Regions from separate parts of the Homo sapiens genome. Here all the other regions are reported to be linked to region 1. The links are microRNA targets in miRTarBase. Many come from high-throughput screens and were not tested one by one. Region 1 holds a microRNA gene; each other region holds the end of a gene's coding sequence. Distances are from middle to middle.

Region 1 (4,000 bases):
CCATTCTGACCTCTCCTGGGCCTCCCTAATCCTGTGGGTGGGACATTCAGGGCAGGCCCACCCCTCCAATCCCCTACTCCCAGTGTGGGCCTCGGGAGAGCTGCCTGGGTGCTGGCGGAGCCTGGGCTGACCTGTAGTTGCCCTTCTTGGAGGCGATGTGCAGCGGGAGCAAGCCGTCCTTGTTGGTCTTGTTGGCGTCGGCACCCTGTGACAGCAGAAACTCCACCACCTCCTCATGCTCATTCTTGCAGGCCTCGTAGAGGGCAGACGCGTTGTCGCTGGCCTGCGTGTTGATGTCAGCACCTGGGGAAGGAGAAGAGATCAGCAAGTGGCCAAGTGACCGGGAAGTTGCTGTCCTCAATGTAACGCCACCGCGTGGTGGGCCTGCTGTGCTAACCACGGTAATGCACGGGACCTTTAACAACGACCCTTAGGAAGGAGGAGTCTACCTGGGGCTACCCCCAGCTTCTTTCAACAACATCAAGACCTAGGGGCCTGGCCAGGCGTGGCTCATGCCTGTAATCCCAGCACTTTGGGAGGCTGAGGCAGGCGGATCACCTGAGGTCAGGAGTTCGAGACCAGCCCGGCCAACATGGTGAAACCCTGTCTTTACTAAAAATACAAAAATTAGCTGGGCATGGTGGTGGGCGCCAGTAATCCCAGCTACTCGGGAGGCTGAGGCAGGAGAATCGCTTGAACCCAGGAGGTGGAGGTTGCAGTGAGCCGAGACTGCACCATTGCACTCCAGCCTGGGCAACAAGAGTGAAACTCCGCCTGGAAAAAAAAAAAAAAAAAAAAAAAGACCCAGGGGCCTGCCAGCCCGAACAGAGGCCTCTGAGAGGCTACAAGCAGCCACGATGATGCTGGTTTTTCCTGAGCACCTACTACGTGCTGAACATCGTGCTTTCCACAGGCTATATCTGAATCCACAGTGGGTGGTCACCTTGTGAGGTCAGTACTGCTCTTATCTCCAGATTACAGATGGGGACAGTGAAGCACAGAACACCTAGACCACTTGCCTCAGACCACCCATTTCATAAAGATGGAGCCAAACTTGAACCCAGATGGTCTGATGGCAGAGGCCATGGTGGATATTCTGATGGTAGAGGCCATGCTCTTAACCCTCACTCCATGTAAGAGGGCCTGGGCTCTGCCCTGAGAGAGGCCTCACAGGTCTAGGAGGGCACAGAGCCCCTAATAAAGGAAAACCCCAATAACATTATTAATTGCAATTTGCTATTAATATTGCTATTATTATTGCTAATGTTACCATGCTATTAATATTGATCCTTACTGCTATCAATAACTTCTAGCTCTTATCACTAGTGCTCCTTGTGCTAGGTATTCCCTGCATGCTTGCTAATTGCTAATTCTCTGCCTTTCACTTCAAGGAATAAGAGAATTACTTTCTGTCTCCTCCCAAGAAAATACTAGGCCAGGTGCAATGGCTCACACTTGTAATCCCAGCACTTTGGGAGGCCAAGGCGGGCAGATCACTTGAGCTCAGGAATTCAAGACTAGCCTGGGTAACCTAATGAGACTCTGTTCTCTACACCTACTGAGTAGCCCCTGGCCGGGCATGGTGGCACATGCCTGTAGTTCCAGCTACTTGGAAGGCTGAGGTGCAAGGATTACTTGAGCCCAGGAGGTTGATATAGGCGGCAGTGAGCCGGGATCACACCACTGCACTCCAGCCTGGACAACAAAGTGAGACCCTGTTCCCAAAACAAAAACAAAACAAAACCCAGAAAACATTAATCCATGCTGCTAGAAGGAGGAATCAGGCCTGGTGACAATCTGCCTTCAGCTCAGTCTTCTACACCTGCTTCATCTCCTCGGGCAGGGGGTGAGGGGGAGAACTGATGTGCACACAGCTTTCTCTGCAGAAAGAGAATTCAGCAGTCCTTCCTTGTTCTGGAAGGACATGGAACTAAGATGCTTGAAGATGTCAGTGGGGCTAAAATCAAAAGCATCTGCTAACCACAGGTCATCTCTCTAAGCATGTTGCTGATCTCAGGCTTTCTGGTAATTTATTATTTTTGATGATGGTGTGACCAGTTTCTGATCCAGCGGAAACAGCACAGGCTTTGGCGACAGATGAGAATCAGCTGAGGCATCTGTTTCATGGCTCACAAGCTCTGCAGTCTCAGAAAGCCTTTAGGAGCCTCGGTTTTCTCATCTGTTGACCAGGGATAATAGTACCTACCCCTCGGGGTTACTGCAGGGAGTAAACAAAATAGTGTAAGCACATCTCTCAGCGCAGTGCCTGCCACAGGGAAGCTGCTCAGCAAATGCCAGTTGCTCAGGATGGAAGGAGCTGGGCAGAGGCCTTCGTCCTGCCTCCGGCCTGAGGGAGAGCCAGTGAGCCGCCCTAACCCTCTGTTGGGCTCTCAGAGGCAGGTGCCCTGGAGAGCCTGGACCCTACCAGCAAAGCCGCCTGCTTGCACAAGAAAAATATTTGGGTTGGAAAATGGACTCAGCCCACAAAGTGAACACACCCTGACTCAGAGTGTCGGTGGGAGACCTGGACAGATGTTTGGAGTTATTGAGGTCACCCTTGCCTGCTGAGCATGCTGTCCGTCACCAGGACCCCCGGCCTGGGCTCCCAGGACCCTGCCTGTGCCCCTTTGTTCTTACGCTGGGCAGTCCAGATTTGTTCCTGGCTGCACGGAAGGGCCTGCACCTATGTTCCCCACTGCTCAGGCGCGTGCTGAGTGCATGGATGCTTACCTGGGCAGAGTCCCGTGCTGCCGACTCTCACAGGGTAGGGTGGCTGGCAGAGCACAAAGCATGTGCAGTTTGGAGTCAGATGGCAGTGGGTCAGCATCCAGGCTTGGACTGTGACCAATTAGTTAACCTCTCTGAACCTCAGTCTCTTCATCTATAAAATGGGACGAGCATACTACCTACCACATGGGGCTACGGGGAAAGCTCCATTGCCCCGATCTGTGTTCACACTTAGCAAGTCCTCAACAGATTCCTACAGTTCAGCCTCAGCGTCTGGATTACCTCTGGCTTCTCTGTTGCTAGAGAGAGGGTTACTTCCCGTGGAGAGAGAAAAGAAATCAAAGGCATTCTTGGGGAAGATCAGGATATAATGTTCTGAAACCAAAAGCAAGTCTGCCATGTCTCGTGGTCTTTTGCTACTGGGCCATCATAATGCAGGCCGTATTGTGTTATTTTCTCCCATTAAGATATTTCACAGGCAAAGAGGGCAAAGAGCTGGGTTCAAGTCCCAGCTCTGCCACTAATTTGCTGTGTGACCTTGGACAAATCACTTTCCCATCCTGGTCCTTGAGTTCATCACCCATAAAAGGGGGAGGTGATCTAAATGTTGCTTGAGGTTCCTTCTGGCCCTGAAGTGTGATGTGGTGGAAAGAGAAGCGGTTGGGGTGTCAGGAGACCAAGAGTCTAGCTAGTTCTACAATTAATTTGCTATAGGACTATAGATAAGTCACTTCCTCACTCTGTGCCTCAGACTCCTCGTTTGTAAAATGAAAATGTTGGACTAGATTATAAATGGCAAATAGGTGGTCCGTGGGCCAGACCCCCCCATATTTGTTCTAATGGCAGATGTCACTAGTGGATCCCGACGCTCTTCCCACTGAGCCTGGACACAGCCTCAGCATCTTTCTCAACACAGCACTCTAGGAGGAAACTCTCACTCCATCAGTGTGCGCACAAGATGACCCCTAACTCGCCTTCCCTTAGAGCTGACCTCTGACATCCTTCCCGTGTGCCCTTTGGGGACTCCATGACCTAGGGACCCTTAGCCACTCACCGTACTTGGCTAAGAACCTCAAGGCCTCCAACTGTCCACTCTGGGCGGCCACGAACAAGGGGGTGATGCCGTAGGCGTTCTTGGATTCCACCTTGGCTCCTCCGCTCACCAGGATCTGCATGACCTCCAGGTCATTGCGAGACACAGACTCGTGCAGAGCGGTCCAGCCGCGGTTGCAGCGGTGGTTGGTGTCTGCATTGTGCTGCACCAGAATCTTCA
Region 2 (4,355 bases), 25 Mb from region 1:
GCACTCTCTTATTGTTTCTTGGGGTCAAAAAGGTAGTCTCAAGGAGGAGCCACTTAATTTTTGACATTTGGAATTAGGATATGTTTTCCTCTTGCTTTTTTCAGACACTTTTGAGTGATCCATTTTAATGTGTGAACAATGTAGCATTTTTTTTTTCGTGGCAGACAATGGAGGTGAAGAGAGAACAATTAGGAGTTGCAGAGAACAGACAGCATCTTGCTCAATGTAAGGGAGGAAAAATAATATATTTTCCTCACCTATCTCAAGGTTCGTGGCTGAGAGCACTACAAGAAAACACAGATTAACAAGAGAAAAACATATACATTTACCTTTTTCTTGTTTTAAACTGAAAGTACCTACTAAGTGACTCAACCAAAACCAAAGAGCCTTTTATGACTTCACCATGGACTAAGAAGGGGTTCTCAAAAGAGAGTGCAGCCCTCCCAAATCCAGAACTACCCCCAAAGAGAGTCAAAAGAAATATACAAATAAACCCCCCAAGAGCTGGCAATACTTGGTAGGATAGCTGGAAATAGGGTGCAACCCACATTTCTGTCCAGCCGTATTCTTGAGTTCCCTCCCCTGAAGTTGGTTGGGGAACTCAAGACAGCTTGCATGCCCCAACAGGGAGAAAATCAAACCAAGTTATCAGGACAGAAATTGAGAAAAACAAGGAAAGAGACAGCAGTCCCTGCGAGGGAAAGGATCAGTAACAAACGAGTACCTTAAAGCCAGATTTAGTCAGAGAGTCACAATATAGACATTTTTTTTTTTTTCCTGATAATCTGAATTTGGGAAGGAAGGGACAAGGAGAAATTTCTAACGTCTCTCTTGACCAAGCACTACAGACAGAGATCTGGGAGAGCTGACTTTGATAAGAATTCTAATTTTTCCAGCTTTTTGTCAGTTGCCCCAGGATCTCATCTGCAAGATCCAGAATGAGTGGGGTGTCTCAGTCACCCCATATTGGGCACCAGAAACTGTAGGGGAGAAAAAGTAATATCTTGCATGAACGCATTGCAAGGTTCATGGCCAAGGCCCCCATAACAAAAGACAGATTTACAAGAGAAGGCCGGGCTCACACCTGTAATCCCAGCACTTTGGGAGGCCGACGAGGGCAGATCTCCTGAGGACAGGAGTTCGAGACCAGCCTGGCCAACATGGTGAAACTTCATCTCTACTAAAAAAAAGTACAAAAGTTAACCGGGCATGGTGGCACATGCCTGTAATCCTGGCTACATGGGAGGCTGAGGCAGGAGAATTGCTTGAACCCGGGAGGCAGGGGTTGCAGTGGGCCAAGATCATGCCACTGCACTCCAACCTGGGTGACAGAGCAACACTCCATCTCAAACAACAATAACAGCAACAACAACAAGATTTACAAGAGAAAAGCATAAAAATTTATTTAACGTAAGTTTTATGTGACATGAGAACCTTTAGAAATGAAGACCTGGCTGGGCGCGGTGGCTCATGCCTGTAATCCCAGAACTTTAGGAGGCTGAGCTGGGAAGGTGGCTTGAGCCTGGAAGATCACTTGAGCCCAGGAGTTCAAGACCAGCCTGGGCAACACAGTAGAGACTCTGTCTCTACAAAAAATAAAAAATTAGCCAGGTGTGGTGATGCCCATCTGTGGTCCCAGCTACTTCGGAGGCTGAGGTTGGAGTATTGCTTGAGCCTGGGAGGTTGAGGCTGCAGTGAGCTGTGATAGCACTGCTGTACTCCAGACTGGGAGACAGAGTGAGACTCTGGCAAAAAAAAAAAAAAAAAAAAAGAAGAATAAGAAGAAAGACCACCCCCAAACCAGGGAAATCTGTGTATTTTTATGCTTAAGTTTGATGAAGAGTAGACAGTCAGGCAGAAGTATGATTGGAGGACTAAAGAGTATGATCTAATGGGAATAAACTGGGGGAAATTTAGCAAGGCCTGTTTGTTCAGATTCTTCTCTGTCCCTGTGTCTTCAGAGATAAGGACATTCCTTTCCTCTGGGTAGAGAGTGAACACTTCAGGAATGAACATTTTACAACCTGCTTCAGGAGAGGAGGGGTGAGGGGAAGGTGACAACGGCCTTCCTGCCTCTGCTGTTTTTTCAAGGCCAACGTGCCGGATTTTGGAGTACTGTATCCTGAACCCTACCTCCAACTTCTCAAATAGTCCCTTGATGTCTGAAATTAACCAATTCATGTCATAAGAATCCACAGGAAATGTATATTTCCTGATTAAATACGAAAACTCACCTTGGTTTTCACCAACATTCTATTGAACATCCCAAGTTCTCAAAATGTACCTCACTCAGAGGGAGACACATGGTCACAGCCTGGGACATCTTCCTGCTCTGCCTCTTCCAGGTCTACCCAAATCCTTCTTGCCTTCCGATGCACAGCACACCAATACCTTCCCTGATTCACTCCAGCTGAATAAGATGCTCTTCCTATTGCCCTTGCTGCCCGGGGCTTGGATGTGATTCTGCTTTATATTATAGTTAATAGTTTGTAAGTCTTTTCCCATTCCTTGGAGTACATTTTTGGAGGGCAGGCACACACTGAGCTTTGTTTTCAAGCTTTACCTGAGCACTTGGTATGCGCTCAACAAATACTGAGTCGTTAAAGGACTCAGTCTTTCTTCATCAATCTTCATCAATCTGCACCTACTTGGTGCACAGCACTCTGTTGGGCACTCATAGGAGACATGAAATAGGATGAGACTTGATTCTAGCCCTCAATGCACTAAAAATCTCTGATGGAGGAGCAGGTACAAAGTGATTCTACAGAGGACAGCTTGAGGTCACTAACAACCTGGGTAAGATAGGTCACAAGGCCAAAGGCTGGAAAGATTTAATGCCTGGCTTTGAAGGGGCTAAAGCCCCCAGACCTTGCCCTGAACCCAGTCTGATGCTTCAATCAGAGCCTCATGGCAGTAGGAGTGTGTAGGCTGGGTGTTCTACTGGAAACGACTAAATTATCCTACGGGTCACCAATTGATTTATTTGCTAATTGACTGGCCCAGCTTTGGGCTTTAAATCTAAAGAAATCATTTCATCCTTTATTAAATACTGCATGAGTCTCAGTCTTTGTTCTGCAGGGCTATACACAATATACCAATAAAACTTGAATTTACACTACAATAGTTATGCCACTAATGACCTTCAAATGCCACTAATACCATACATGCTCCACTTCTCGGCTGGATCTGAACCTGTCAGTGAATTCTGAGCCCATCGACCTCCCTCTGACACAGAGTCGACCCCCTTGCCCATGCCCGCCCCCAGCCTCCCACATCATTCCATGATTTCATTTCTGAATCGGTTACTATTTGGAGACCCCAATTCCTTTACACCTACTCTTTTTATCTGGTAGACAATACTTTATTCGGAAATGTTCCCTCCTGTAATTACAAATCTTGTTAGTCATCCTCCTCCTCTCCCCAGGAGGATTGTGGGCTTTAATTAATTAATGTGGTTAAACCGCTTTGAGGTGCCTGGTTGAAAGGTGCTATATAAGTGCAAATTATTATTATGGCTGTTGACATCCCATGGCGGCAAAGCCCTCAGCCCTACACATCTAGAGACCTGAACAAAGGCTTCTTCATCTTCACCTTCCCTGCTAGGTCTGAAATCGCTAGCTCAATGGTTTAGGAGCAAATCTGTTACCATCTCAACAGCAATCAACTAATTAATCCCCATTATGTCAGCTTCCGTTTCCTTCTTCCAAGCAGTACGGTCCTGTTTTATTTCACAAATCACACCCCCATCAACTCTAGACAAAGGTCACAGTATCCCTATGGCTTCTCTTGGCCTAAAGGAAAAAAAAAAAAAAGAGAAAGTTTGAAAAAAAAAAATTGTTATGAAATGCACTAACTTCCCACCAGCAACCTAAATGGAACTTTCCTCCAACAGCAGTCCTCTTTCATACGTATTGCCCACAGAGCCACTGGCCTTGCAAACCAGAGATCCAGAAACACAGCGGAAGTGTGGGTTAGGGTCCCGCAGCCCTGGCTTGACTAAGGATAGCTATAGACAAAAGGGGAGTGTCGCTGCACTGGGTGGGAAGAGGTCATCCACAGAAGCAAGCACCCCTCTTCAGCTTTCTCTATGACCCCCAAGTTTCCCCTGAGAAAGCCAGCTGCCATCTGTAGCCAGGAAGCCCTCACAAAGGCAGGGGACCATGATTTAGATGTTTTGTGCTATATCTAGCACACCACAGTCCTTAACAAATGCCCAATACTTCCACTATGATGGTAGCCATTGAAAGCAGCCCTGTGGGGGAGACTTGGCCTCGCATAGGGACGCGGCTGACCAAAACACTCCTTACAAGGTTGTGCCTCACACCCTTTGTTCCAGTGGATGTGGGCAAGCCTCA
Region 3 (4,355 bases), not on the chromosome of region 1:
ATTTTTAAAATAAGGAACCATCAGTGTCCCTCATAAACTCTCTTTGGATTTGAAAAGCATTGTGTTACTGCCTCCTGTATGTTTCTCTCTTAATAGACTAACACTATATTTAGATCGCAGTCCCTATACAGATATCTTATGAGGTAAAGTTGGAAGCTCTATAGGGTGTTTTGCAGCATTGATTTAAAATATCCCATGGATAACCCACTTGCATAGAAGATGATACTAAAAATATAAACAAAATTTATTCCCAATCTGCCCATTTTCTTCAGCTGGAATACTAGCTAGGAAACTCCTAATTTAGTTTTCTGCTTTATGGTACTGTGTTTAAGCAGATTCCTTTCTTCCATAAAATGAAACTTGAACAAGTGGAGTGAGCTGAAAAGACAATTGATTGGAAGTGTCTTGAGAGGCATAGAGATGCCTGAGACCCAGTCACTGCCCATATGTCTAAACCAGAATAATTGCAAGACATGTAATAATATACAGAATAATTGCAAGGCATGTAATGAGACCAATATGTCTTCATCACAAATCCTCTGTTGTTTGTACATCTCCAGCACTGAGCAATGAAAACTGATGTTCATAGCAAGATTTCTGAAATTCTTTCCTAATCATCAAGGGAAGAATAAACTTGGGCTTGATGTTCTAGTTATTTGGTTATGTCCCAAAGGTTGTTACCAAAGGTAGTTCTCGCACATGGACAGGAATCGATCCTCAGACATCTGAACCACACAAAACTATATTCAGGAATCCTTGTCTTTCTGCTGCAGGACCTGGGAGGAAGGCAAGGTGCTCATCTTTGATGACTCCTTTGAGCACGAGGTATGGCAGGATGCCTCATCTTTCCGGCTGATATTCATCGTGGATGTGTGGCATCCGGAACTGACACCACAGCAGAGACGCAGCCTTCCAGCAATTTAGCATGAATTCATGCAAGCTTGGGAAACTCTGGAGAGAGGCTGCCTTTCTGGTTCCATCTCCTTGGGTGTGAGGATAGAATTTCGAACACCAAGAGTCAATTCCCTTGACTTGCAGCCCGAGTAATTCAAAGCCTCCTCCTAGGGTCAGAAGACACTAAAGGGAATATTTGCCTCGCTGCAATTCATTTAGGAAACACCCTGCTGTGTGTCATCTCATGACAGCACTGGTCTTCTGCCAGTATTTAAGGTGAACATTTGATAGCTTCTACCTTACCAGCCAAAGATATTTTTTCCACATAGAATAGGTCTAATTCAATGTATAATGAGAACATATGTAGAAACTGTGAATGGATTGCTTTAGTTTGTAATTTTTCTATGCAGTTATATTTTTCTAGTGTAGCTAGACTATTTTGTCATCATGTACCACTACATTTTTGTTTATTTTAATGACAAGCTGTATAAATGCTTTACTTCTAGCTATTTAATGGTAGCATTACTGGGGAACTCAGACTTCCCTCTTTTAATTCTTCTTAGTAAAAGATACTCATGAAAAAAGCAGTTTTATTTTCCTAACAAAAAAGAAAGAGCTCATTATGTCAGTGTCTATGAACTGTACCCATCCCAACTCTCAAATCGTTTGGTTTTTTTTATCTTGATTGAGATCCTCTTCTCACTATGCTAGTGGTGGAGATATTGACAAAATCCTATTTCTTTCAAAGAGGAACTTTTCACACCGAAAAAAGAGCATGGAATTATTTTATATTGTTATAAAAATCCCAGATGCAAATTTTTTTAATGCCAATTATTAGAGCTTCTGGGGAAAAAGTATAGTTCACGGAAATAAAACTATGTTCTTTCAGGGTTGGGTGGATAGGTGGCTGCTAGGGTGTCTGGCTCCTGGCGGCTTTGCCATCCATGAGGCAAGGGCTGGGAACACAGTGTCTTTGCCTATGGTAGATCCATGTGAATGTCAGGAAGCCAGCTCTTCAGTCTTGGAGATGATTTCTGCTACAATTCTGTAGAAAGATTAAGGATGGCAGAGTAAAAGGTTACCAAGAATGCCAGGATGTTTTTCTTGGGCGTAGGAGGTCCAGATTACTTTCCTTTTTGATGAAAGAGTTTGGAAGACTGTCCCATCTCTCTGGCTTGAGAAATCTCTGCCATTTTAAACATCACTGTGAAATAGCAATTATTATCATCTGTATTTAGTTTTAACATTACCCACAACATAGAAATAATAGGTAAAAATCGTCTTGCCTACTCATTCCAAAGATGATCAAGTCATTAATCTAGCAAAGTATTCATGTATCAGATTTTGTATATTTTGAATCAAAGCTAACTAGGAATGTTAGATATAAGAATGTAATGATATTCATGCACTGAATTCTAAGCCAATATGAACAAAAATGCTGCATGAATGGCACATATAGGTCACCAAAGTTCATTCACAGGTAGAAAAAACTTGTGCTTTCTTTTCCATCTAAAAACAAAAGGAGACTTTCTTTATCTCATTTAAAGAACAGCTCTTTGAAATTGAAATTGACCCTTTTTGCTTGACCTTAAGGAGATTAGCTTCCAGTAGATGAGTTTGCAAAATACTTTTCCTGTTCTTTTGTTTTGCTGGTATTGAAAACATCCCACTAAATCAGATGAAGAGGCATGGGAGGAAAAATATCCAAATTAATTACTAAAATCGAGAAGAGAAGGCAAACTCTTGAAAAGTAAAAAGGTGTTTGTGACCTTCAGTATTTATTGAACAGAGGAAATAACTGACAAGGGCAATACAATTCAATGTTCATGTAGTAACATTCATGTCACTTGTTGAATTTGGTTCTCATATGTATATTGCATACACATAAATTCAAACTATAAGTCGTCATTTTTGAGCCATCATCTTACATTCATGTAATGAAATTATGGAAGAGAGTAAAAACTAGCTCTTAACTTAGTAAATATAATATGGTATTTAAAATCAGGTCACTACAGTAAGGTTCTAAGTATTGCCAATTGAAAAGCTAGAAATGGTATTACTGTTGCAAAGTGTTGTCAATAATTGACTCCAATAGCATTGTAAATACTTGTATCCCACAACTATTTTAAACCCAAGCAATAAAATGGATTTTCTAATTCACTTCAATTCTTTATTTCTCTTACCTATCTATGTCTTGGTACATAAGAAAAGTGTTTCCATCACTGCATTGGTAGAATTATTTCAGTGTTATTATTTTTGTGATTTCGTATGTCTACACAAAAATGAATTAGTTTAATTTATATTGTGATACAGTTGTTTGAGAAATATTTTTAATTCTGTTTCAACTTTATTTCTCCAAGTGTATAATATAAAAATTACTTCTGTTATTGTTCTCTACCAATAGGGGAAAAAATTAAAACATTAGATCCATTGAGAAAGAGATGATGTAATAAATAATTAAGATTAGTAATAATATTATCAGGGGTGATTATGACCAGTTGAATAATCTCTTTCCCTTGAATTATTTAGCTAACAAATTAACTCTCCCAAATATTTAAAATAATGTAAAATCATATTTTACTGCCCATTATTAACTAAAATATTTTTGTTTGACTTTGAGCACCAACTGGTAATACTAATAAATACCCATGTCATGCAGATGGCTGGGCGAATAAGAGATGTCTAAAAATATGCACTGGTCTTGGAAAACATGGCACAAGTAAGGATATCATATATGATGTCTGTTTATTTTATGTCTGATTTCTTTTGAATGAGTAGTTGGGGACTCCATTTCTAAGGAGACTAGGTAAATAAAATGACCTTTGACATTTCATCCTGCATTTCTAGTCTTCTCTTACTTCAGTACTTGCATATTTAGCCATCCATATGGGTCATGCTCCATGATTGAATATTTACCCTCTCAGCAACAACCATGGTCTTTCTCCACATCTTTAATGGTTGCAGGAGGGTTGTGGGGGCAAGGGTAAATGGTTTGATAGCACTTTTCTTTGCTGTAGTGACCCAGTTGAGGCAACTGGAATGGATTCATTAATCACTGACATGTGATTTTCATGAGACATCTCCTCTGCAGACACATGCTGCACTAATGGGCTTTTGAGCTGCCTGTGGTAACTCACATTGCTCAGATGAAATAATCGTATTTCACGTCCATGTGTCTTCCTTTAACGTCAGCTCATGACAGTCAGCTAGTGACCTGACAAGAGATGTGACATCAAAATAATTTTTTGCAGGATATCATCAAAATAAGCAAACTTTGCAAATACCCAGACCTATGAGAACATGCTCTTAGGCTGAACAATTCGATGCTGGTGATGAGGTCAAAGGAAATAATTCAGTAAGAATGGAAATTACTGGAGATACTATTGTCTCAGGGCTTTGTACTACATGAAACTTGACAGTGGTGTCTGTACAGTTTAACTCTGATACATTTACTTGGAAAT

The links. The annotated mature microRNA hsa-miR-4506 reads AAAUGGGUGGUCUGAGGCAA and lies in region 1 at 1,016-1,035, opposite strand. An mRNA with a match to its seed (bases 2 to 7 or 8) in the 3' UTR can be bound and repressed. Matches are read on the target gene's strand: a 7mer-m8 pairs with bases 2 to 8, a 7mer-A1 pairs with bases 2 to 7 and ends in A, and an 8mer does both.
Region 2: miRTarBase lists RAD51B as a target of hsa-miR-4506. The part of its 3' UTR that is shown has no 7-base or 8-base seed match.
Region 3: miRTarBase lists ASPH as a target of hsa-miR-4506. Seed matches in the 3' UTR shown: 7mer-A1 at 3,478-3,484.

What each region holds. Positions count from the first base shown.
Region 1 is chr14:93,947,218-93,951,217 of GRCh38, forward strand. It overlaps MIR4506 (microRNA 4506), which reads right to left and starts at 1,085; the gene lies at 1,009-1,085. ASB2 (ankyrin repeat and SOCS box containing 2) reads right to left here. Exons shown (of 10, transcript NM_001202429.2): 6 at 3,782-4,000; 7 at 132-303.
Region 2 is chr14:68,477,084-68,481,438 of GRCh38, reverse strand. RAD51B (RAD51 paralog B) reads right to left here. Exons shown (of 11, transcript NM_133510.4): 11 at 3,346-3,791. The coding sequence ends at 3,775. Among named protein-coding and RNA genes, the nearest start is that of RAD51B-AS1, 210 kb to the left of the region's middle. RefSeq lists an enhancer at 4,096-4,355.
Region 3 is chr8:61,499,928-61,504,282 of GRCh38, reverse strand. It overlaps ASPH (aspartate beta-hydroxylase), which reads left to right. Exons shown (of 25, transcript NM_004318.4): 25 at 774-3,727. The coding sequence ends at 924. CLVS1 (clavesin 1) reads right to left here. Exons shown (of 6, transcript NM_173519.3): 6 at 2,654-4,355. Among named protein-coding and RNA genes, the nearest start is that of ASPH, 210 kb to the left of the region's middle.